2 separate regions of the Homo sapiens genome follow, and region 2 is linked to region 1. The links come from fine-mapping of genetic effects on gene expression. A gene starts in region 1. The other region holds a variant in brackets. All regions are shown on one strand. Distances are between the middles of the regions.

What was found. PIP is the estimated chance that this variant, and not a neighbour inherited with it, causes the effect.
Region 2: its variant is fine-mapped to the expression of LINC02468 in tibial artery (GTEx, PIP above 0.99).

Annotation. Positions count from the first base shown.
Region 1 is chr12:20,120,639-20,132,751 of GRCh38, reverse strand. It overlaps LINC02468 (long intergenic non-protein coding RNA 2468), which reads left to right and starts at 4,851. Exons shown (of 4, transcript NR_146523.1): 1 at 4,851-4,936; 2 at 6,917-7,013; 3 at 8,253-8,307; 4 at 11,594-11,772.
Region 2 is chr12:19,770,467-19,782,579 of GRCh38, reverse strand. No RefSeq gene overlaps it. Among named protein-coding and RNA genes, the nearest start is that of LINC02398, 240 kb to the left of the region's middle. The variant A/G (reference allele first, on the strand shown) is at 7,268.

The DNA of each region.
Region 1 (12,113 bases):
AGCCATATTATTTGAAGAAAGTAGAATTGAAAGTAGCTTTTTTTAACATGAGTAAAAAAAGGGTCATTAAGATAATATGAGGTAAAACTCATAAAATATATCAAAATTCATAAAGCAAAATTCTTGGTATTTAGCAATAATTTGACATAGAATTATTCAATTTTATACATATTTTCTGTCCTTTAAACAATTATACAGAATATATATTAAAAATTAGAATAATGAAATTCAGAATTTTATATATATCAAATTTTGTAAGCATTTAAACAGAGTTAACCAGTGCACATAGTCCTTAAAAAACTATATATATAATAATAAAGTCTATATATAAATAGTATAGTTTTATATATAGTTTATAAAATATGTATTATATATAAAATAAATAATATATATAAAACATATAGTATGTTATATATATTATATTTTATGTATGATATAATGTTTTATTTATTATATAATATTAATCTGCAAAAAAACTAGATAAATTCCAAAGTGTCAAAAATGTGCTACCTATATTCTTTCTCTAGTAAAACTAGATATTTACAAATGAAATACTGAAGAAAGACCCAAGTCAGTTGACAATTTGAAACATTTCTTAAATATTGGAACAAAAATATCAATCTACAATTATAAACTATTCAGGAACTAATGATGATGAGTGACCTCTATTCCAACATTTTCAGGAGATGGTCAAGACAATTTTGTTTTTAATTATGATTTAAAATCATTTAAAATGAATTGTCTTTTATTTCATAATTTAAATCCAAGAATTTGGAAAACAATCCATAGAAATCTAAGGAAATCAGAAAGAAAATATTAATAATTTGGAGTTTTGGGAATACAATTCTAGATAAATCAAAATACCTACCTTTTCATTTATTTATGAAAAAAATTATTGGCTGCTTAATTTGTGCTCAGCATTTTTCTATACATAAAATAGGCAAGATTCACAGGTCTTGTGCTCAAGAAATTTAAATTCAGCAAGGATTTATTATTTATTTACTTCCTTTATGTAACTAGATGGTTAAAATATAAGTGATAAGCTCCCTGATAGTAATAAGTACAGGCAACAGAGAGAAGGTAGCTGGACCCCCTACCAGCCATAATGCAGCAGTGATGGTTTGCTGAGGGACAAGTTACATAAACTAAGTCCTGAGGGTAAACAGCATTATCCATCAGGAAGGAGAGCATTCTCAGCGCAAGGAGAAGAATGTGAAAGGAGAGAAAAGTGAGTATGTTTGGAGAACTAAAGATATTTCAACATTGTTAGATATTAAATGATGAGATGTAGTCTGAGAGAGGTAAGCTTTAACCTATCATAAAAGCTTTATAGAAAATATTAGGCCGGGCGCTGTGGCTCACACCTGTAATCCTAACACTTTGGGTGGCCAAGGCTGGCGGATCACAAGGTCAAGAGATAGAGACCATCCTGGCCCACATGGTGAAACCCCGTCTCTACTAAAAATACAAAAATTAGCTGTGCATGGTGGTGTGCACCTGTAGTCCCAGCTACTCGGGAGGCTGAGGCAGGAGAACTGCTTGAACCTGGGAGGCAGAGATTGCAGTGAACCAAGATTACACCACTGCACTCCAGCCTGGCAACAGGCAACAGAACGACACTCCATCTCAAAAAGAGAGAAAGAGAGAGAGAGAGAAAGAGAGAGAAAAAATATTAAGGAATTTCAACTTCATCCTGAGGAGGTAGAAAGGATTGTGTATAGGAGTGTGACTTGAGAAGATGTATATTTGAAAAATGTTATGAGATGGGAACGATACACAGCCTCTCCTTTTCAGGGTGAGACCCACACTGTCCTAGGAGGAGAAGGAGTTCGGAAGAAGAAAGGAACACTCCAAACCCAAAACACATGTAAAGGGAGCCAGAAACTGAGTACCAAAAAATACTGACTACTAAAAAACAGAAGTGCCAAAAGTGAAGGGTAAAAGTAAAAGCTGCCAGAGAGAAAGGGACAAGAAGAACATAAATCTTGAGTGAAGAGTGGAAGTGCAATACTATAAAATTAACAGAGACTTTATAAATGACTAGAAGTGAGGGAAATTGGCACAGCATCCATTGATAATGACAGGAGAATAATTTCAGCAGAGGGCTGCACCACAATTTCATTAGGTTTCCTTTAGATATCCTGGAATGCTACTTTCTAGAAACTGGCCATCAGTCTTATTCTGTAACTTTAATTCTCCAACCAATTTAAAATGATTATATTCTCATCCCCAAGATGCCTAATGGGCTGAACTGTAATACTTAAAATTCAAGTTTGTCTATGAGATAGTGGTGATTGCTTGGAACTGGTAATAGTGGTTACTCTAAGCAAGGACTTTAAACAAAACAAAAGCTTTATGAGAAATTTCTGGCTTATATCTTTCAAATAGATTATTAATTAATAATACTGGAAGGTTTTAATAAAATCATGCTAATGTCCTTCTCAGCAACAGTGTTATTATAGCATCAACTTATAACCAAAGCAATATATATTAGAAGTGACCAGCTAAAATCAGAAATGTGAATTATGGGAATATATGAAATTGCAACAATAAGTTATTAGAGGTATGATTAATGAAGCATCCGCCATGTGGCAAGTCTCACCCCAGAGCCACTGAGCCCTTCTGAGTTCATCAGTTTGGTTACCAATTATTTCCCAATATCCATTAATGGCAGGCACTAATTTTATTTTTCTCTATAGTATTCTTAAAGTACTCTTAAGGATAAAGTAGAATGGAAGTGAATCATTTGTTCCTGCTGTAATGACTGGCCAACTCAAAACATTAAATGCCAGCTCTGAGTGTTATGATGAATGCCACCTTAAATACATAAAATGAAAAAATTATGTTGACATAATAGATGAAGTCATAATTTGCAGAATTTTAGTAAAATTGGAATTCTAGGATTACATATGCATATGATTAGTTGTTCATTCATTTATTAATTTATTCACTCAATCACCTGTATACCAAATATGTATTAAGTATCTGTTATGTGCCAGGAACCTGTTCCAGGTTCAGAGAATACAGTGAATAAACAGACTGAACCCTGCTCTCAATGAACATCTTCATGTTACTTGATATGAGTTCATTCCTTGAAGTAAGAAAAATTCATTATGAATTGCCTGTTTTAAAGACAGGGCATGTGTACTTTGAAAGATTTAGATAGAGATTGGTTTGTGACATATAGTTTCTCTCTTTCCCAAATATATTTAAAATATTTATTGTCTCTCTTTGACAAAAAAATGAAATCATGGCTCTCTGTTGAAGGCCAAGGAAAAGGATCCATAATATATTTACATTTCCATCCTTGAAAAAGAATTCTAATCACAACAGAAGACTTTTTTTAAATAAGCATTTTAAAGAAATTATAATTTCAAATTTGAAATCTGTCAGCCAAACACTTAATTCATCAGTCATCTGCATATTTCAAGACTCAGTAATCTCCAGATGTGTCTCAATTATACCAATAAAATAAGACTAAGTACATGTCAACCCATGTTTTACAACTTGCATAGCTTACTTCTAATGCCTTTGTTCTGCTTACATATTGTGAGGAAGTGTTTATCTTTTTGCATATTTCTGAGTGATAGCATATAAAGACATACAGTATTTAGGATTTTTACAACTTTTTTACTTACTCATGAAACATTATCACTCATAAATGCAAAAGGCATGCATAATGATAAGGAAACCTCTGTGGTTTTCTTTAAATTCAGAAAGAACTTCATTAAAATTCCCACAATTTTATGACTGTTGCAGTCTAGGCCACATAATTTATTTTTATTTTGTGACTTGCTACAAATAAATTCTTGCTTAGTCCCAGACTTCTCTTAGCTTGATAAAATTTAAGAGCCTCTTTTAAATTTGGATACATTTTGACATCTTCAGTGGGTTTTATATGTACTCAAGTTGTTCTTTCCCTACACAGTTTTCTCGTATTATCGAATAAGCTAAGGAAAAACTGATGTTATTACTATGTTTGGTGAATTTTCAAATTTAGTATTAAATGTGTGCTCTTTTGTAAAAATCTGCTTGTAATTCATGTGTTGAAATGTTTCTTCACCCAACATGGCACATGTATACATATGTAACTAACCTGCATGTTACGCACATGTACCCTAAAACTTAAAGTATAATAAAAATAAATAAATAAATAAAAAGAAATGTTTCTTCATCTTTTACTCTAATTTAATCCACCAATTGATCAATCATTAATTCAACATTTATCTAGCCCCTACTGTGTTCGACACACTACTCTGGTTGCAAAAAATATAAGTGAAGAAAATGAACGAAAATTCCTGCCCTCATAGCACTGTAATGCCCTCTCAATAGTAAACATTTTTTTTTAGAAATGCAACCTTCTAACCACAAAATTTAATTGTGCTCCACTGTCTTCAACCTCTCTTAAAGTTTCAATTATTTATAAGCATAGTTTTTCCAAAAAATAGATTTCAAAATCACAATAACATAAAGCACGTTTCACATCTCTCTTGTTTCCTAAATTTTTCCAGGGCTTACTTTCCAGTTAGAAACACCTTGTGTTATAAATGTCTCTTCTTGTATCTAAAATTTTTGGTAAAACAATTGGCACAAACAACAGAATGCTCGATAGTTTTACCATTGAAAATATGAATACGAATAATTTTTAAAATTTAGTAGTATACTTTAAAATTTCATACGTTGAGAAAATGTAGAAATTGTGGCAGAGGTTGATAGTAGTCCTCCAATGGATATTTTCTCCTTTCTTTGTAATTCAACCTTGCCCTTGTTGGGTTCTTTTTCGTTTCTGCCAGCTAGAACATCAATAAGATGCTGGAGTTTAATCAACCACAGCAGACTGTGAGGTGGAAGCCACTTGGTGATTGTGAGCCAGCACCAAGATCGAAGGCATTTGGATCCCTGGTGATCACAGACCCAGCATGTCATCTCTGCAAAGGTGACATTAGATTCTATTTGAAGAAGAAGACATCCATATTGTTTAAGACGTTGTTATTTGGAGTTTTCTGTCAGTAGCAGGCAAACCTAATTCTAACTAACATAGCCTACAACTTACTTTCACAAATTTAACAATCTATGCTACATCCTGTATAATTCTTACCATCTTGATTATTTACTGAAGATGATGAAATGTTCAGTTATGTCACATGCCTATTATTGGCAACAGCATGATTCACCAACTCTTGGAGATTTTCCTGAAAAATAAAAACACTAGTGTTTGTTATGACCTTATTTGTATATAATCACAGATATATAGAAGTAAACCAAATCAATCTTGAACAAAATAGCGAATAACTGGTGATAATAAAAATATCTATATGGAGAGAGACACAGCTAAAAAGGTAAGAGGAAGCCCCACCAATACCAGCTAAGCACGGGGAAGGCAATGCTGGAGTATTTAATTGAGTCATTTCAAGTTGTGTATATGACTTTTACTTGCTTTTATCAAATACAATGTTTATTTCATTTAACCACAGTAAAACGAAAACTGTGACTTGTGTTTCACAGTGAGTATAACTGATTTAATGGAATTGTTGCAGTTCTATCACTTTTCTGAGTTAAAGTTTGCCTCCCCTAACTATTCTGGAAAATAAAAATTCACATATTCTCTGTTCTTTTTTTCCTTCCTCTACTTAATTCTATCTTATGCATGACATTTTACAGAAGGCTCATCTTCATTTTCTAATCAAGATGGCATATATTAAAAATCAGATCCATCATGTGTCATGCAACTATCATACGACACTGATTATTTTTCCAAATTCCAATGATTTACAACTGCCGTTTAATTGCCTGAGAGCATTTTAATCCAGGGTAGTTAACATTACTTGAACTGCTACATCATTTAATTGTAACATTATAGGTTTACAAGCAAAAGCAAGCCTTGAACTAGAGACAGCAAGTCTACGAAAAAAAAAAATCCAAGAGAAACCATCAAGTTTTAAAAGTTGATGTCAGAAATATCTCATTTAGTTCAAATAAACTACTGCGAAATAACACACTTTAAAACATGTAAATAAAGAGCTAAGTACCTAAAAGTAAAAAATAATATCTAGATGAAAGAGATAATTTATGTGTTGGATAGTGAGACTGGGCGTAAAAAGTCTGGTTCCCAAACATTTATGAAATATTTACACCATTCCTCAGGAAATAGCTAGAATATAAACAAAGTACCCTTCCTAGAAGAGCTTCAAAAATCATTTTTATAGTGGCAATTAATTTAATTCCTGAAACTCTGAGGAAATTACAAATCTATTGTGAATGTTTATGGTACTTGATAAATCAAGACCAGAAATGTTATCATCATTAACAATCATCAATAATTACAAAACTATTCAAGAGAGTCACATAAGAAAAAAATACTTTTAGCTGAGATGCAACTGAGCAAAAGTATGTTTCAAATTGTTTTTTAGCATGATACACAGAAGTCCAAGTTACATTTTAAAATTTTTGATTCTACTACACACAATTTTAATAGATTTTAATACATTACTAAACCAGAATAGCAAATGCTATACCCTGGTATCACACCAGCTAAAAAAAAATATGATCAGAAATTCACTTATTTCATAAATATAAAAGTGTGAAAATTTATGGACTTTCTTTTTTTATAATTTTAAGTAAGTTTTAAAAATGTTAGCATCTCTGTGTTCCCCACTGCAGCACAGAGAAGCACTATGGTATTGCGATTAAGAGTGGTTAATCAAACTGTCCTGGGTTCAAATCCAGGTTCTGTGCCATCTGTGTAATCTTGAATAAATTACTCATCTCCACTTGCCTCAGTTGTAAAAATAAGAATAACATTTATCTCATAAGATCATGTAAGGAATAGCTTGCAAAGCTCAGAGCTTCAAGTAAGAAGTGGGCATAAAAATCCAATTCTGGCCTCATTTACTCTCATTTATTTACTCTTTTTTAGGTCTTTGAGCAGGAGCCCAAGGAAGGAAAAATAAGGACACACATTTTTGGCTGGATTAGTAACATCTTTCCTTTGTCTTCATCCACCAGTGTTCTTGGTACACTGAAATGTAACAAGAAATTTGAAAAATCTTATTTTCCATGTCAGAAGCTATTACATCATTCCATTTGCAATAACATACTTTAATCTTCTCCAGGTTTCATAAATTCTTGGGACAACTATAATAAATGTTATTTGCTTGGAAAGCTAAAGAAGAATGCATAGTTAAATTTTTCAAAGTATGACCCCCATTACACTAATACTGAAGGAGAAGCTAAGTGGTTGAATTGGAAGGATAGGCGATAATATTGCTATGCTTCTGAAAGAGTACCCATTCAGGAAATATTAGGAAATCTTAGTATTTGGATCCAAAGCCCTTGCCAAGAGACCTTGGCAGATGCAGCGAAGCAGTCCTTTATTAGATGTGTCAGTCTCAGCTGCACACATATCTTTGTAGTTAAGATATAAATGCTCCTCCTCTAGTCACAATGGAGATAAGTGCTGAAAAACCTCTAGAGACAGGCTATTTAACAACTAGTGAGATTCCTTGGACTACCCATGTAGAATCTCCTTCGTTTCATTGAGGTTTCCTCCCAATATACTCAGATAATTGATTTTTTTGATTTTTTAAATTAATTCCACATTAGATTCTGTATTACTATGAACCACACTACCGTTTATGGATAATTAACATCTGGTTGCAAACAACGGTCTCATTGTTTTAACCTCATGTGGGCTTACAGGATTAATGGAAAGTTCACTGAAACCAACACTTCCTTATTCTGTTTAAGGATTATCAAAGATTTATGAATTCATTTTATAAAATTTCCATCCTTAACCATACTTTTTAAACACCTTCTAAAAATCAATTACCTCATTTTCAATTAATTAAGCCAATTAAACTATGAAAAATGTTCACGTGATGATGGCTCCCCAGTTAACACATTTCAAGAAGCTGTTTTGCCTTTCACATATCTTCTGTTACATGCCAAGTACTAATCTCTACCCCGATCCTCTCTATATTAATCCTAATTTTTAAAGGTAGAGACCCATACATTACATCTTAATATGTATTTTTTACATTTAAATTGTAGTCAAGCTTTTTAAAAATTATATCATAGTAAAATGCCTATTTTGCCATTGAAACAGTTGCAATATGACATTAACGTATGAAAGCATCCTTATGAACCCCACAAATATGTACAATTATTTGTCACTTTAAAAAAGTAAAGAAAAAAAGAGCACTTAGCGTTTCAGCAAATCAAGTCTTGTAAGTAATGCTAATATTGTCTTCTAGCTTCCCAGAAAGTGTGGAATATTGGCCTTCCTTTTCAGATTCATGTGAAAGCTTGGTAAGTATTACTCTTAGATAAAAGAGATAGATGAGTGTTCTAAGCTCATCTTTTTGCTCCCAACTCTGGAGAGATAATGATGCCTACTTACGCTCAGATGCACTGGGTCATATACCTTCACCAGATCACAAAACCCAGGTCAGATACATATGTGTGATGGTGTGTCACTTTCTACCTAGATGAAGGCTATCATTCCATCAGCCTTCAGTGTGTTTCTTCTAGGGGCATAAAAGGTAAGATGGCAAGGATGCCTAATGCTGAACACTAAGTGGACAAGTGACCTCCAGCAGGTTAGAGTAGCATAAAAGAAGGCTGAGTTAGTCGTGAAAGGAGCTAGAAGCCAACAATATTTATTTCCTAGCTATGTTACTCTCCTAGCCTCAATTTACTCTTACATAAACAGAGTAAAATCAACATGAGTGACCCACTAGAGCAGAAGAGGGTGAAATATATAGGAGGGCAATGATTTAGACCAGGCAGAAGAATGGGCTTGAAGAAGTCTTTCCCAGAGTAGTTGATGCTTTAAGAGAGGTATAGGACTCACCTGGGTGAAGAAGATTTTGAAAGAAAGGTGGCTTAGACAGAAGGGATAGTGAATGAGCAAGGTTATTGTGAGGATTCATGAGATAATCAAAACATTTATCCCACATTGTGCTTGGTCCTTAACTGTTAATACGTTCGCTCTTTAGTCCAACAAGGCAGATGTTGCCTAATCCAACAAGAAAATGTTTGCTTTTGGCAAATGTGCTGCCAGCGGCATTCTTAGCACTCAACAGCAGAGCACCTTAGAACTATGGAAAGGCATGTCAAAGCCACTGCACTAGTGTATGACTTCTGCCATTGCACAGAGCCCTGCACTTAGGAGGTTTCTAAGCTTGTTAACGCTATGCTGTTGCTGTCTTAAAATTCTTAATAATTTTGAACAAAGCACTCACATTTTCATTTTTCACTGGGCCCCACAAATTACATAGCCAGTCCTATTTGTGCTATCAGATAATCCCAATTTGTGTAAATCAGATGGATTGACATTCTGGTTTTCTTACTTCCTAGCTTCATGAACTTCTAGGAGCTTTAACGATAGAAATATCAAAATTTTTTTACTCATTTGTGACGATCAAACATATTTTGATTATAAAACTAATTTTTATTTTATAAAACATTACAGAAACAGAGAGAACAGTATTCAGTCAGCTACTGAGATCCTTGTTTATTTTTAAAAAATTCACTATTTGGAATGATTTCAAATATCTGGAAATTAGTACATGCCTATTGCCATTTCCTCTCTCTTCTTCTCCTTCTCTTTTTCTCTGTTCCTGTTCTCTCCTTTACAACTGAGCTTATAGTATATGGTAAATACTGTACTGAGTGCCAAAAACACAGATCCAAGCAGACACAGTCTCTTCTCTTGAGGAGCTTATACTTACATAGAAGAAATAGAAACAGAAAATGACAAGGTTGGTGAAGTAATAGAAGTGTAATAGGCATTTCACAGAAAAAGCACAGGGTGCAATAAGAATACACAAGAGAGCAGTAGCTAAGATTTGGGGAGGTGATGTGAGTGGAAGTGGCTCTGGGAAGTCTTTCCCAAGAAAGTTGATAATTCAAGAAAGGGACAGGATTTAGATGAAGGAAGGAGGCATTGGAAGGAAGGTGTTTTAGGCAAAAGAGAAATTGTATGTGCAGTCATAAAAGCTTGAAACACATGTTTCTTATGAGAAAGCACAAGTAGTTCTATTTATTTGTGTCAGAGATGCATGTGGAAGAGTGAAGAATGAGGAGGCTGGAAAGGGAAATAGGCAAAGGCCAGATCCACGGGTATTATAAGGGGTAAACCAGAGTTCTAAATTCACCCTGAATGTTCCTTGAAAATTATGAAAAGGTAATGAAAGTAGAGAGATGATATGGCTAGATAACAGTGTAGAGATGAATGATAATGCAACTTAGACAAGAAATATTTGTGGAAGAACAGCGGACTCTAGTGATACTATAGAGTGGAAATTCAGAGCAAGCTTCAGGCCCTCTAGAAATATTTTATGGAGCAACTATTATGGAGCAAGTACTTTGTTATGTTCAGAGAACACAGAGATAACTAAGATAGATCCCCTCTTCTCCAGAAGGGTCGAATGCAACGTAGTGAGTGCAGTGAGCATGCTATACCCATAATATTGAACGGAAAAGGGGCCCCCAAACTTCCTAAAGGACACAGAGAGTCTTTTGCAAAAGAACTGACACTAAGTCTCAGAGGAATGTCCTGAATCGAGACTTAAAAGATTAAAGGAATTAATCAGACACAGGATGAGGTAATTAGAAAGGAGGAAATATTCTAGGCAAAGAAAGTAACATAAGCAAAGAAAAAGAAATGAGAACTTATATAGACAGTGCAGAGTCCAGGGGAGAGGTGGATAAGAGACTGAACTGGAACAGTAATTGTAGAGATGACGACTAAAAAGGAAAGCCAGATTTATGGAATGTTTAGGAAGCATTAGCATGACTTTGTCATTGTTTGGATGTGAGAAGTGATGGAGGTGGAGGAATGAGAGGAGATTTCTTTTCCACCTTGCCTTTTTTACCCCTTAAGTGCCAAAAACCACAGACAATTTCCCAAGCTATTAATTCTAGCTAAGTGTTTTTCCTCCTCAGGCTATGTTTTAGGAGGACAGTCTGTGGTATAAATCTACAATCAATGTAAATTAATATAACTACAGTCACACTACTTACTGATTCCAAAACAGATATACTTGGAATCCCAGCACAAACTCGTTTTTTCAAATATAGCTCCAGACACACTCATGGTCAACATGTCCCCCTGTCAAACAACAACTACTTACCATCAACTTAATACATCATATACAAGGTGTAAAGATATCTCCTTTCTCAAATCAAATTCAAGTGGTTCCACTGTAGAATCACAGAATTTCAGGTTGGAAGGCATCTTAATAGTTATAGAATCCAAATATTTGGGACACTCTGCAATTTGAATTTTGTATTCACAGTTTTCATGAGGTCAACAGGCTAGAGAGCAAGACAACTTACCACTTGCTTTCATAAGTTTTTCTTTAAGTCCTACGTCTGAGAAATAAAATGATTTGAGAACCTGAGAACAATAAAATATGACTACTGATTTCATAGCCCCATGTACTTTCAAATTCACTTTCCTATGTTGTCAAAGCAAGGTTGATTTTTTTTCTCTCCTCATTTAAATGTTTCTCATGCTTTTTGGTGTAAGAATTATATTAAAATGAAATTAGTCACTGCTTGTTTTTATTTTGCCTGGTTTCTTTGACAGGAGAAAAGAACACAGACTAAAAGGAATATAAATCCAAAAGAATGAGTGAAATGGGAATACACAAGGCATGAGCAATAAGACTGTTCTCTCAGAAACAATGAGAATAACTGCTCTACATCTTACAAACCAGAAACTTACACGTTGTATCTCATTAAATTTTATTTTGAATATTGAGAACATTCAGTGCGTGGATAATATTTAAAAGTCATAACTCCGGAGGTAGAACCAGTTGATGAATAAAAAAAAACTTCTAGTCAAAACATAATTTATCTATTATGTACAGGACAGGCCAAAACCTTGTTTTGCCTCCTGGAAAATTATTTACAAGAAAATGATTGCTTAGAATGTTCCTTCTTAAGGAGGTCCCCCAAATCTCTAAATATAGATGGTTACATAAACTAATTCAACCTAGAAAACAAGCACACCCCCTACTTATGTATATACATGTCTTACCAGATTTATAACCTATAGTATCTGGAGCAAGGAAAAAGGATTTACATATTGAAACAAAAGGAAAAGT
Region 2 (12,113 bases), 350 kb after region 1:
GCACCTGGCCTTATTTTTTTGACTTTTAATAACAGGCATTCTGACTGGTGTGAGATGGTATCTCATTATGGTTTTGATTGGCATTTCTCTAATGATTAGTGATGCTGAGCTTTTTTCATATGCTTGTTGGGCACATGTGAAAAAAAAACTTGTATGTCTTCTTTTGCAAAGTGTCTGTTCATGTCCTTTGTCCACTTTTTAATAGGGTTGTTTCTGTCTTGTAAATTTGTTTAAGGTCCTCATAGATAGATGCTGGATATTAGACCTTCGTCAGATGCATAGTTTGCAAATATTTTCTCCCCATCTGTAGGTTGTCCATTTACTCTGTTGATAGTTTCTTTGGCTGTGCAGAAGTTCTTAAGTTAGTTAGATCCCATGTGTCGATTTTTGCTTTTGTTGCAATTGCTTTTGGCATCTTTGTCATGAAATGTTTGCCTGTTCAGATGTACAGAATGATATTGCCTGGGTTATCTTCCAGGGTTTTTATAATTTTAAGTTTTGTACTTAAATATTTAATCCATCTTGATTTTTGTATGTGGTTTAATTAAGATAGGAGTCCAATGTCAATCTTTTGCATATGACTACACAACTAGCTAGTAACATTTATTGAATGGGAAGCCCTTTCCTCATTGCTTGTTTTTGTTGGTTTTGTCAAATTTCAGATGGTTGTATGTGGCATTATTTTTGTGCTTTCTATTCTGTTCCATTGGTCTATGTGTCTGTTTTGTACCAGTAGCATGCTGTTTTAGTAGCTGTAGTCCTGAAATAAAGTTTTAAGTTGGGTAATGTGATGCCTCCAACTTCATTCTTTTTGCTTAGGATTGCCTTGGCTATTTAGGCCTTTTTGGATTCCGTATGAATTTTAAAATAGTTTTTCCTAGTCCTATACAATGCTATTCCTATCAAACTACCAATGTCATTGTATCTGGAAATTGTTTTGTGCAGTATGACCATTTTAACCATATTGGTTCTTCCTATCCATGAGCATGGAATGTTTTCCATTTGTTGGTGTTATCTCTGATTTCTTTGAGCAGAGTTTTATAGTTCTCATTATAGAGATCTTTCACCTCCCTGGTTAGCTGTATTCCTAGGTATTTTATTCTTTTTGTGGCAATTGTGAATGGGATTGCATTCTTGACCTGGCTCTCCACTTGGATGTTGTGTGTTTATAGAAATGCTACCCATTTTTCTACACTGATTTTGTATCCAGAAACTTAACTGAAGTTGTTTATTAGTTCTAAGATTTTTTTGATAGAAACTATGGAGTTTTCTAGGTGTAGAATCATACTGTCCGCAAAGAGAGATAATTTGATTTCCTCTCTTTATATTTGGATGCCTTTTATTTCTTTCTATTGTCTGATTGCTCTGACCAGGAGTTCCAATACCATGCTGAATAGGAGTGGTGAGACAGGACATTGTTATCTTGTGCCTGTTTTCAAGCAGAATACTTCCAGATTTTGCCTATTCAATATTATGTTGGCTGTGGTTTTCTCATAGATGGCTCTTATTTTGAAGTATGTTCCTTCATTGTCTAGTTTATTGAGGGCTTTTGACATGGAGAGATGTTCAATTTTATCAAAAGCCTTTTCTGCCTCTATTTAGATTATCATGTGGTTTTTGTCTTTTGTTCTGTTTATGTGATGAATCACATTTATTGATTTGCCTATGTTGAACCAACTTTGCTTCCCAGGGATGAAGCCTACTTTATCATGGAGAATTAGCTCCCTGTATATACACCATTGATGTGCCGCTGGATTTGTTTTGCAAGTATTTTGTTGAGGATTTTTACATCAACGTTCATCAAGGATATTCGGCCAAACTGTTTTTTATATGTGTCCTGCTTCTTCTCACTGGGTGGGACCCCACAGCCTGGGACTCCAGCCAACCCCAACCAGGGCTCTCAGGCTGGTAGCAACTCGGCACTTCCCTAGGATGCAGTGTGAAGAAGGAGAGTCCGGCCACCAGTTTTTGCTGCCTTGCAGTCTCTGCTGCTATAGCCTTCAGGCTCTGGAGAGCAAGTGGTGATTAGGGAGTGGCATGGATCCCCCACACAGCGCAACTGACCCAAGGTAAAGTGGCCAGATTGTTTTTTACATGGGTCCCTGATCCCACTTCTCCTCACTGAGTGGGACCCATCTATCTGGGACTCCAGCCACTCTGTACTCACCACAACCAGGGCTCTCAGGCTAGTACAGATCTACACTTCCCTGAGACGGAAGCTTGCAGAGGGAGAGGCTGGCCACAGTTTTTGCGTCTTCCAGATCCTGCTGCTATTGCCTTCTGGTCTGGAGAGTACACGGTGATTAGGAAGTGGCATAGTTCCCCAGAACAGTGCAGCCCTCCCACAGAAAAGTGACTGGATTGTTCTCCACGTGGGCTTCTCTCTCAGCTTCTCATCACTGGGTAGGGCCACCCAACCTGGGACTCTAGCAAAACTACCCTGCCCCTTCCTGAACCCTTTAGTCAGAGGTGGGAGGAAATCCCAGAGACAACCCACAACCCCTCTGCCTCTGCAGCTACAGTAATAACACCCTAACCTCCCACAGGTTGGGGAAGGAACAGAAGGCACAATAGCTACGCTGGCAAATGCAACATACTGCAGCCACCAGACAAAAAGGAATCCAGTCTCTCTTCCTTGTGACACCCTCCCTCCCCACTGCCCCCAAAACTCTTCACCAGGCAGGGCCCCCGGCTTGGGACTGCAGAACAGCTGACCCACCCATGGTTAGGCATACCCACTGGTAGGGGCTGTTCTTCCCGGGTGAGGGGCTCCCAGAAGCAACCAAAAGCCCCCCTGCCACTGCCACAGCAATGATTCTGCCTCTGCTGCCCTCAGTCTGGAGAAAAAACAAAGAATCTAAGGGCTTCACCCGAGCTTCCAGCACACCAAGTGGAGAGGAGCCCAGTCTCTCATCCCTGTGAGCTGTGGACAAACCTCCTGCTCTTTAACAAGCAGAGCCCGGCTCAGGCTAGCAGAGCAGCTGCCCCACCCCATGGCCGAACATTCCTGGGAGCAGCAGCTTCGAATTTCTCTGAGGTGGAGCTCCCAGAAGCAACCAAAAACCCCCTTGCCACTGCCACTGTAGTGGTGCTGCCCTTGCTACCTTCAGACCAGGAAAGAAGCAAAGACGCTGAGTGCTTTAATCACACTTGCAGCGAATGGCAGTTGCGTTAAGGAGAAGAGGCCAGTTTGTCTCCCCCAGGTCCCACCCAAGGCCCCTGCTCATCACCAGGTGGGGCCCCATTAGTGTGGACCCACCGTTCAGCTGCCCCACCCCAGGCTAATTAAACTGATTGATAGCAGCTCTGCATGTTTCTGGGCTGGAGCCCAAAGAGACAAATCAAAGACCCTCTGCCACAACCACCGCTGAAGTCCCTTCCCCTGCTGCCTCAAAGCTGGGAAAGGAACATAAAGCCAGAAATCACCCTAGAGCTGTGGTGTGCAGCCCAGGAGTGCCAAGTTGAGACATGCAGCCAGCACTCAAGTGGGAGATAAACCCACACTTTCAGAGCACTGAGAGGGAGTACAACTGCAATTGTGAAGAAATACAGGGGAGCTGTGTTAACTGAGCAAGACCCTACCTACCGGCCATTACACTTAAGTGCCACCTACTGGATCACAGCACAAAACATCAATACCAAAAAATACTTTGCTAATATACTCACCGTGTGAAATCAAAAACAAGAATTTAGCTACAAATAAACACCTGAACAAAGCTTTGGCCCTCTGAAAACATCCAGAAAGGAAGTCAACTGACTGTACTCAACACCACAGTTAAAGGAACATCAGCTTGCTCACACAGATGAGAAATAACCAGCACAAGAACTCTGGCAATTAAAAAAGCCAGAGTGCCTTCTTTCCTCCAAATGCCCACACTGTCCTAACGAGGCTGAAATGGTTGAAATGATACAAATAGAATTCAGAATACAGACAGGAACAAAGATCATCGAGATTCAGGAGGACATTGAAATGCAATCCAAGGAACCTAAGAATCACATAATACAGGAGCCGTTAGATGAAATAGCCATTATAAAAAAGAACCAAAGTAATCTGATAGAGCTGAGAAACACACTACAAGAATTGCATAATGGGGGACTGGTCTAAAAAGAAAAAAAAAAGAATTGCATAATGCAATTGTGCATATTAACAGCAGAATAGACCAAGCTGAGGAAAGAATCTCGGAGGTCAAAGACTGGCTATCTAAAATGACCCAGGCAAATAAAAATAAAGAAAGAAGAATTAAAATGAACAACAACAACAAAAAACCCTCCAAGAAATGTGTGATTCTGTAAAGAAACCAAACCTATGACTCATTGGCATCCCTGAAAGAGACAGGAAGAAAGCAAGCAACTTGGAAACATATTTCAGGATATCGTCCATGAAAACTTCCCCAACCTCACTAGAGAGAACTACATTCAAATTCAAGAAATACAGAGAACCTCTGCAAGACACTACACAAGAAGACTATCTCCCAAACACATAATCATCAGATTCTCCAAGGTTGATATGAAAGAAAAAAAATGTTAAGGGCAGCTAGAGAGAAAGGGCAGGTCACCTACAAAGGGAACCCCATCAAGCTAACAGCACACTTTTCAGCAGAAACCCTACAAGCCAGAAGAGACTGGGGGCCTATATTCAGCATTCTTAAAAAAAGAATTTCCAACAAAAATTTCACATCCAGCCAAACTAAGTGAAGGAGAAATAAGGTCCTTTTCAGACAAGCAAATGCTGAGAGTATTTATTACTACCAGACCTGTCTTAAAAGAGGTTCAGAAAGGAGCACTAAATATGCAAAGACCATTACCAGCCACTACATAGACACACTGAAGTACATAGACCAGTGACACTATAAAGCAACCACACAAACATGCCAGCATAATAACCAGCTATCAACATGATAACGGAATCAAATCCATAAATATGATACTAACCTTGAATGTAAATGGGTTAAATGCCTCCAATTAAAAGGCACAGAGTGTCAAGCTAGATCAAGAAGCAACACCCGATGGTATGCTATCTTCAAAAGACCCATCTCACATGCAATGACATGAATAGGCTCAAAGTAAAGGCATGGAGAAAAATCTACTAAGCAAATGGAAAACAGAAAAAAGCAGAGGTTGCAATCCTAATGTCAGACAAAAAGGACTGTAAGCCAACAAAGATCAAAAAAAGATAAAGAAAGGCATTATATAATGGTAAAGGGTTCAATTCAACAAGAAGACATAACTATTCTCAATATATATGCACCCAACACAGGAGCACCCAGATTAATAAAGCAAGTTCTTAGATAACTACAAAGAGACTTATATTCCCACACAATAATATTGGGAGACTTTAACCCCCGACTGACAATATCAGACAGAACACTGAGGCAGAATATTAACAAAGATAGTCAGGACCTGAATTTAACATTTGAACAAATGAGCCTAATAACATCTACAGAACTCCCCACCCAACAACGGAATATATATTCATCTCGTCTACACGTGGCACATATTCTAAAACTGACCACACAATCGAACATAAAACAATACTCAGCAAATTCAAAAAAACCAACAGTATACCAACCACAATCTCAGACCACAGGGCAATAAAAATAGAAATCAATGCTAAGGAAATCACTCAAAGCCATAAAATTACATGGACATTAAACAACCTGCTTCTGAATGACTTTTCAGTAAATAATGAAATTAAGTCAAAAATCAAGAAATTCATTGAAACTAATGGGAATAAAAATACAACATACCAGAATCTCTGGAACACACCTAAGGTAATGTTAGGAGTAAAGTTTACAGCACTGAATGCCCACATCAAAAACTTAGATCTCAAATTAACAACCGAATATCACAACTGGAAAAACTAAAGCTAGAGCAACCCAACCCTAACACTAGCAGAAGACAAGAAATAACCAAAATCAGAGCTGAACTGAAAAAAACTGAGACACACACACACACAAAATACAAAGATTAATGAATCCAGAAATCGGTTCTTTGAAAAAAATGAATATGATTAATAGAGCCAGCTAGACAACTAAAAGAAAAGGAGAAAAGATGCAATTAGGCACAATCGGAAATGACAAAGGGGACGTTACCACTGACCCAAGAGAACCATAAAAACAAACCCTCAGAGACTACTATGAACATGACTATGCAGACAAACTAGAAAATCTGAAACAAACTGATAATTCCTAGACATATAACAACCTCCCAAGACTGAACCAGGAACAAATTGAATCCCTGAACAAACCAATAACGAGTTCCAAAATTCAATCAGTAACAAAAAGCCTACCAATAAAAATAGCTCAGGACCAGATGGATTCTGAGCCAAATTTTACCAGACGTATAAAGAATAGGGAGCGGGGCCAGGCGCGGTGGCTCACGCCTGTAATCCAAGCACTTTGGGAGGCCAGGCGGGCAGATCACGAGGTCAGCAGATCGAGACCATACCGGCTAACAGCGTGAAACCCCGTCTCTACTGAAAACAAAAAAATTAGCTGGGCGTGGTGGCAGGCGCCTGTAGTCCCAGCTACTCTGGAGGCTGAGGCAGGAGAATAGCTTGAACCCGGGAAGCGGAGGTTGCAGTGAGCCGAGATCGCGCCACTGCACTCCAGCCTGGGTGACAGAGCGAGACTCCCTTGCAAAAAAAAAAAAAAAAAAAAAAAATTGGGAGAGGGATCATCATGGTGGATAGGAGGCAGGACTAGATTGCAGCTCTGACTCGTACGGGCAGAGCAGGGTGCGGAGGCTCGCATCATTAATTTTAGCTCCGTATCAATGGCAAGAACAAACCAGGAATCCGGAGAGGACCCACAGGCCCTCTAAAGGAAGCGGACTGCTCCTGTAGGACCCGGGAGACAACCCAGATACAGCGAGTCCCCCAACTGCGGAAGTAGGAAAGGGAGATCCTCCTCTCCCAAACACACACCCCCACTGGGAAAACTGAAGGTCTGTCTGCGGGAGAAGTTTCCGACCTTACCTGGAACTGAGTCCATCTCGAGAGCCTAGCGAAACACAGGGGTAGAGGAAGCAGCAGGAAAGGCTCTGGGAGCTCGTTGGGTCCCCAAGCAGCCCATTCCTGCCCGGCACCACAGGACTCCTTCGGCGGCCAGAGGAGCGGGGAAAATGCCACAGGGAGAAGGAAGTCTCCAGCGAGCTCTGTAACAACTGGAATCCAGCCAGAGCCTCCTGGCCAGAACTCCGGGGAGGGCGCGAATCCGGTGCGTTTTGCTAAGGACTTAAACTTAAGACCTGAAACTATAAACATTAT[A/G]GAAGATAACATTGGAAAAACCCTTCTAGACATTGGCTTAGGCAAGGATTTCATGACCAAGTACCCAAAACCAAGGGCTAAGGACATCAATAGAAAATTCTCAAAAGAAGATACACAAATGGCCAACAAACATATGTAAAAATGCTCAACATCATGAATGATCAGGGAAATGCAAATCAAAACCACAATGCAATACCACCTTACTCCTGCAAGAATGGCCATAATCAAAAAATAAAAAAACAGTAGATGTTGGCATGGATGCGATGATCAGGGAACACTTCTACACTGCTGGTGGGAATGTAAACTAGCACAGCCACTATGGAAAACAGTGTGGAGATTCCTTTAAAAACTAAAAGTAGAACTACCATTTGATCCAGCAATCCCACTACTGGGTATCTACCCAGAGGAAAAGAAGTCATTATTCAAAAAGACACTTGCACATGTACATTTATAGCAACACAATTCACAATTGCAAAATTGTAGAACCAACCCAAATGCCCATCAATCAACAAGTAGATAAAGAAACTGTGGTATTTATAGGATGGAATACTACACAGCCATAAAAAGGAATAAATTAACAGCATTTGTAGTGACCTGGATGAGATTGGAGACTGTTATTCCAAGTGATGTAACTCAGGAATGGAAAACCAAACGTTGTATATTCTCGCTGATATGTGGGAGCTAAGCTTTGAGGATGCAAAGGCATAAGAATGATACAATGGACTTTGGGGACTTGGTGGGGAGAGTGGGAGGGGGATGAGGGATAAAAGACTACAAATATGGTAAAGTGTAAACTGCTTGGGTGATGGGTGCACCATAATCTCAAAAATCACCACTGAAGAACTTACGTAACCAATACCACCTGTACCCCAATAACTTATGGAAAAATAATATTAAAAAGAGAAAATGTGGTACATATACACTGTAGGATATTATGCAGCCATAAAAAAGAATGAGGTCACATCTGTTGCAGCAACATGGTTGGAGCTGGAGGTCATTATCCTAAACAAACTAATGCAGAACATAGAACCAAATACATGTTCTCACTTATAAGTGGGAGCTAAACAATGAGAACACTTGGACACTAAGAGAAGAACAACTGACCCTGGGGCCTACTTGAAGGTGGAGGGTGGGAGGAGGGAGAGGATCAGAAAACATACCTATCAGATATTATACTTATTACCCGAGTGACAAAATAATTTGTACTCCAAACCCCCGTGACATGTAGTTTACCTATATAACAAACCTGCTCTTATACCCCTGAACCTAAAATAAAAGTTGAAAACAAAACAAAACAAAGAAAATATGTATGATATGATTTAGAAAATCTGAACACTGATTGGCTAGTTTATAAAATTAAAGAATTATTAGTTTAAAATATAGATTTAATTTTATAACAACAAAAATGGCTTATCTTATGCAGTTAAGTGAAGAAAAAAAGAGACAATAAAATTGTTTATAAATCCTGAGTTCAACTGTAACAAAGAAAGAATTAACATTAAAAAGGTTAAATGATTATCACCTTAGAATTACCAAGTTAAAATGTTTCTTTTAATTTTTCTGGTTGCCTATAGTGAATTTTTATTATGTTTATAATGAGGAAATTTGGAAATCATATTTTAGAAAAAAAACGCTTTTGGGATAAATTTTAATTTCAATGGATTAAATTTACCAAGAAATTGAAGCAAGGTAATACATGTATCTCTGCTTACAATACATGGACACTACTATTAGATTCATCAGCAGTTTTATTTTATCAACAAGGGGTAGAATCAGTCAGTTCATGGGCCTCAGTACTGTGAGGTCCCACAGTGTTCTATCACCAAAAAAATCTCCAAAGTAATTCTTAACCTCACTTAATTGCTGTAGATATATTCATTCAATATCTGCTAAATAAACATTTTCTCTGCAGCTTGAGCTACCCAGGTAAAGACCATATATCTGGTTCATCTGGTACACAAGTTCTTTTTCCCCAAATTAGCCTAATGGGCAATTGCTTCCCAACTCCATGACAGAGAGCTAAATTATTTACTCTTCTGAAGTTTCTAAGTAAATTGTCTTAGTCCTTAGGCCACTAATAATTTGTTTTGTAGAATGAAATTATCAACCAACCTCAGTGGCTGAGTAAATTTTTAAGAACAATCCCTTCTCCTTTGTCCATCTTTTATTCTGTGTTTAGTTTAGGACAGGTATAGTTTTGCCCATCACAAGAGCCATAAGCTTACAATAGAATTCCCTTAGGCTTGAAACAGGCTTTGGTCACCAGACTTGAGATCTCCATACAAATATTTCACTTCGATTTCAGCAAATGGGAGAGACTTGGAAATCTGACATGGTCAGCAATTTCAACGTTGTTACATATTTTGTGGTGGCACCCAAGTTGCGCTCATGAGAATCCTTGTTCTGAGACTGAGAATTGTCTACATGGAAAAAGCATGGGCTATGGAGTCAAAGAATTTTGGGTCTAAATTTTGGCATAGCCATGTATTTGTCCTGCAACCTTGGGCAAATGACTCCATCCCTAGAGACTTGGTTTCCACATTTGCAAAATGGGGTTAACAATTCTTAACCTTTTTGAGTTTGTAGGAAGATTTCTTGAGATAATGTAGGTAAAAGGCTTATTATGGTACTGGATATTAGTATTCACTAGATTGTAGTTAAAATGAATGTACAAGTGATAAAACAAAAATTTCAACTGAGGCGCTCTCTGAAATGAGAAGCTAAAACAAGATACAAAATTATTCAAAAAAAAAAAGTAAGAACCAGAGAGAAGATACGTCTTAAAAAGTGTATGAAGGTTGTGAGTTGGAGATTAGGAAGGAGGCTCTTTGTTGCATTGCTTTTAGCACCAGATGATATTATTTTGACTACTTTTTTTCTGAATGAGTATTATTGGGGTCTAACACAGAGAAAAGCTATAAAATATAAATGTAAAGCATAATAAATTATCACTAAATACACACCAATATAGCTGGCACTTGAGTCAAGAAACAGAATACTGCCAGCACCACAGAAACCCAGAAAGGGATTTTTTTTTAAAGGCTTTTCAGAGAATTGCCCTACCCTTCACCTAAAGCCAGGAAAAAGTAACTGTAAAAGGAGGCAATGTCCTCTGCTGCTGGGAACATAGTGGCAAGAACCTGACTGAAGTAGCCGAGGCAGGAAAGGAGCTGTTTTCTGGGAATTATCAGTGCCAATGTATTAGTGGTGAGTATGAGTGTTTCTCTTGGACCAAATGTGGTCTCATGTGGGAGAGATAACTGTATGGGGAATTTTTAGATGCTAAAAGAGCCTGCAAGAAAAATGAGCAAGCATCAACAGAAAGAACCAAAGGGCATTCCTTACATTCTTTGGTTCCTTACATTTGGTTCCTTGGGGCTATGTAGACTAAATACAAATTGCACTTGCCCGTGTCAGAGGAATTGCAATGGAGGGCTCATCTCTGAAGAACCACATGTGCCCATGCAGGAAAGAATCAGCTTTAATGTGTGCTATGTCCAGAGTATGGCCCCATCACCTTCACAGTACCAGACAAGTAAAATTTCCTGCCTCTGTCCTCTCCTTCCTCCCTAACCACCAACATGAGAGAGTTCAGAAATAAGGTAGCAAGTGAAGAGAAAAGGAATTGAAGGCTAAGTGGGCATGAGAGTGAAAGTCCATCCCATAGCCAGTGACTGCCTCTCATTCTGGGGACACAGGGTTCTCAGACTATAGCAGGTTTGGATTGGAGGAGGAAGAGGATCTTCCATTTTAAATCAACTTTTATCTTTTAATGAAGATTGATGGCTCTTATGCAGGATGGACTGCTTTTCTTTTTGGATATCAACTCTTTGAATTACTTAAGATTGTCTAGAAAATTCATTTGACTGCACACATTTTCAGGACAAGAGAAGAACCAGCTTCACTGAATAAATGTTAAATAACAATGAAATTTCAAAGAAGTGACTTTCTGACTACAAGGTTCAATTTATATGTGTTCAATATACTGGGAATATCACTAATCTTATTATCATAACAAGATTTAAGAGAGGTGAACAAAAGAGCTGCATCATATCCAACTCTGATAGCCTTTGGTGGGATTAGGACCTCCAGACCCACCAGCAGAATATACAATTACACAAGAATATCTGCCCTGGTGAAGTAGCTATCCATGGAATATAATTTTTAATGGTTTTTAAAAATATCATTACCTATTTCAACGTATTAAATGGGGAAAACATCCTCATGCCTCCATGTCATCTACCTGAATACTAGGACACTGTACATGTATATAGCAATGATGATGAAAAACACCTGTAGACCAGGTATCCGGGTTACTGCTCAGACCCAGAGTACATCCATCTGTTCTTTGCTTCAGTGCATTGCTACAATTTAAATATGCAACCTCAATGAAGCATAATGAAAAAGTTCATCCAAGAAAGTGTCTTTCCTGGGCTCTGATATTGCTTGCATTTGTCACAGTGATTTTTGGAGCACTGTATCATATCAAAAAAAGCAGGATCCATAAATGAAAAGTCATTTAAAAATAATCAAAAATGTAACTTTCTTCCTTTGTTTAAAGCCTACAATATAAAATTTACATCTCAGTGATTATAAGAGAAGGGAAAAATATCAAACACCAGAAATATGCTGTCAATTAACTCCCACAAGCAGATGTAGATTAAAACAGGGTTCGTAAATATAAAAACTGGTACCTGGCTTATATTTAATAGACCTTTACGGTTATAGAACTTAAAAACTGAATACAACAAAATTATCCTCCAGATTTTGTATACTGACAAATTAAAATTTAATTTTACCATAACTATAAGCCTTTGGCCAAGTTTTATTTTCAATCTAATATTCT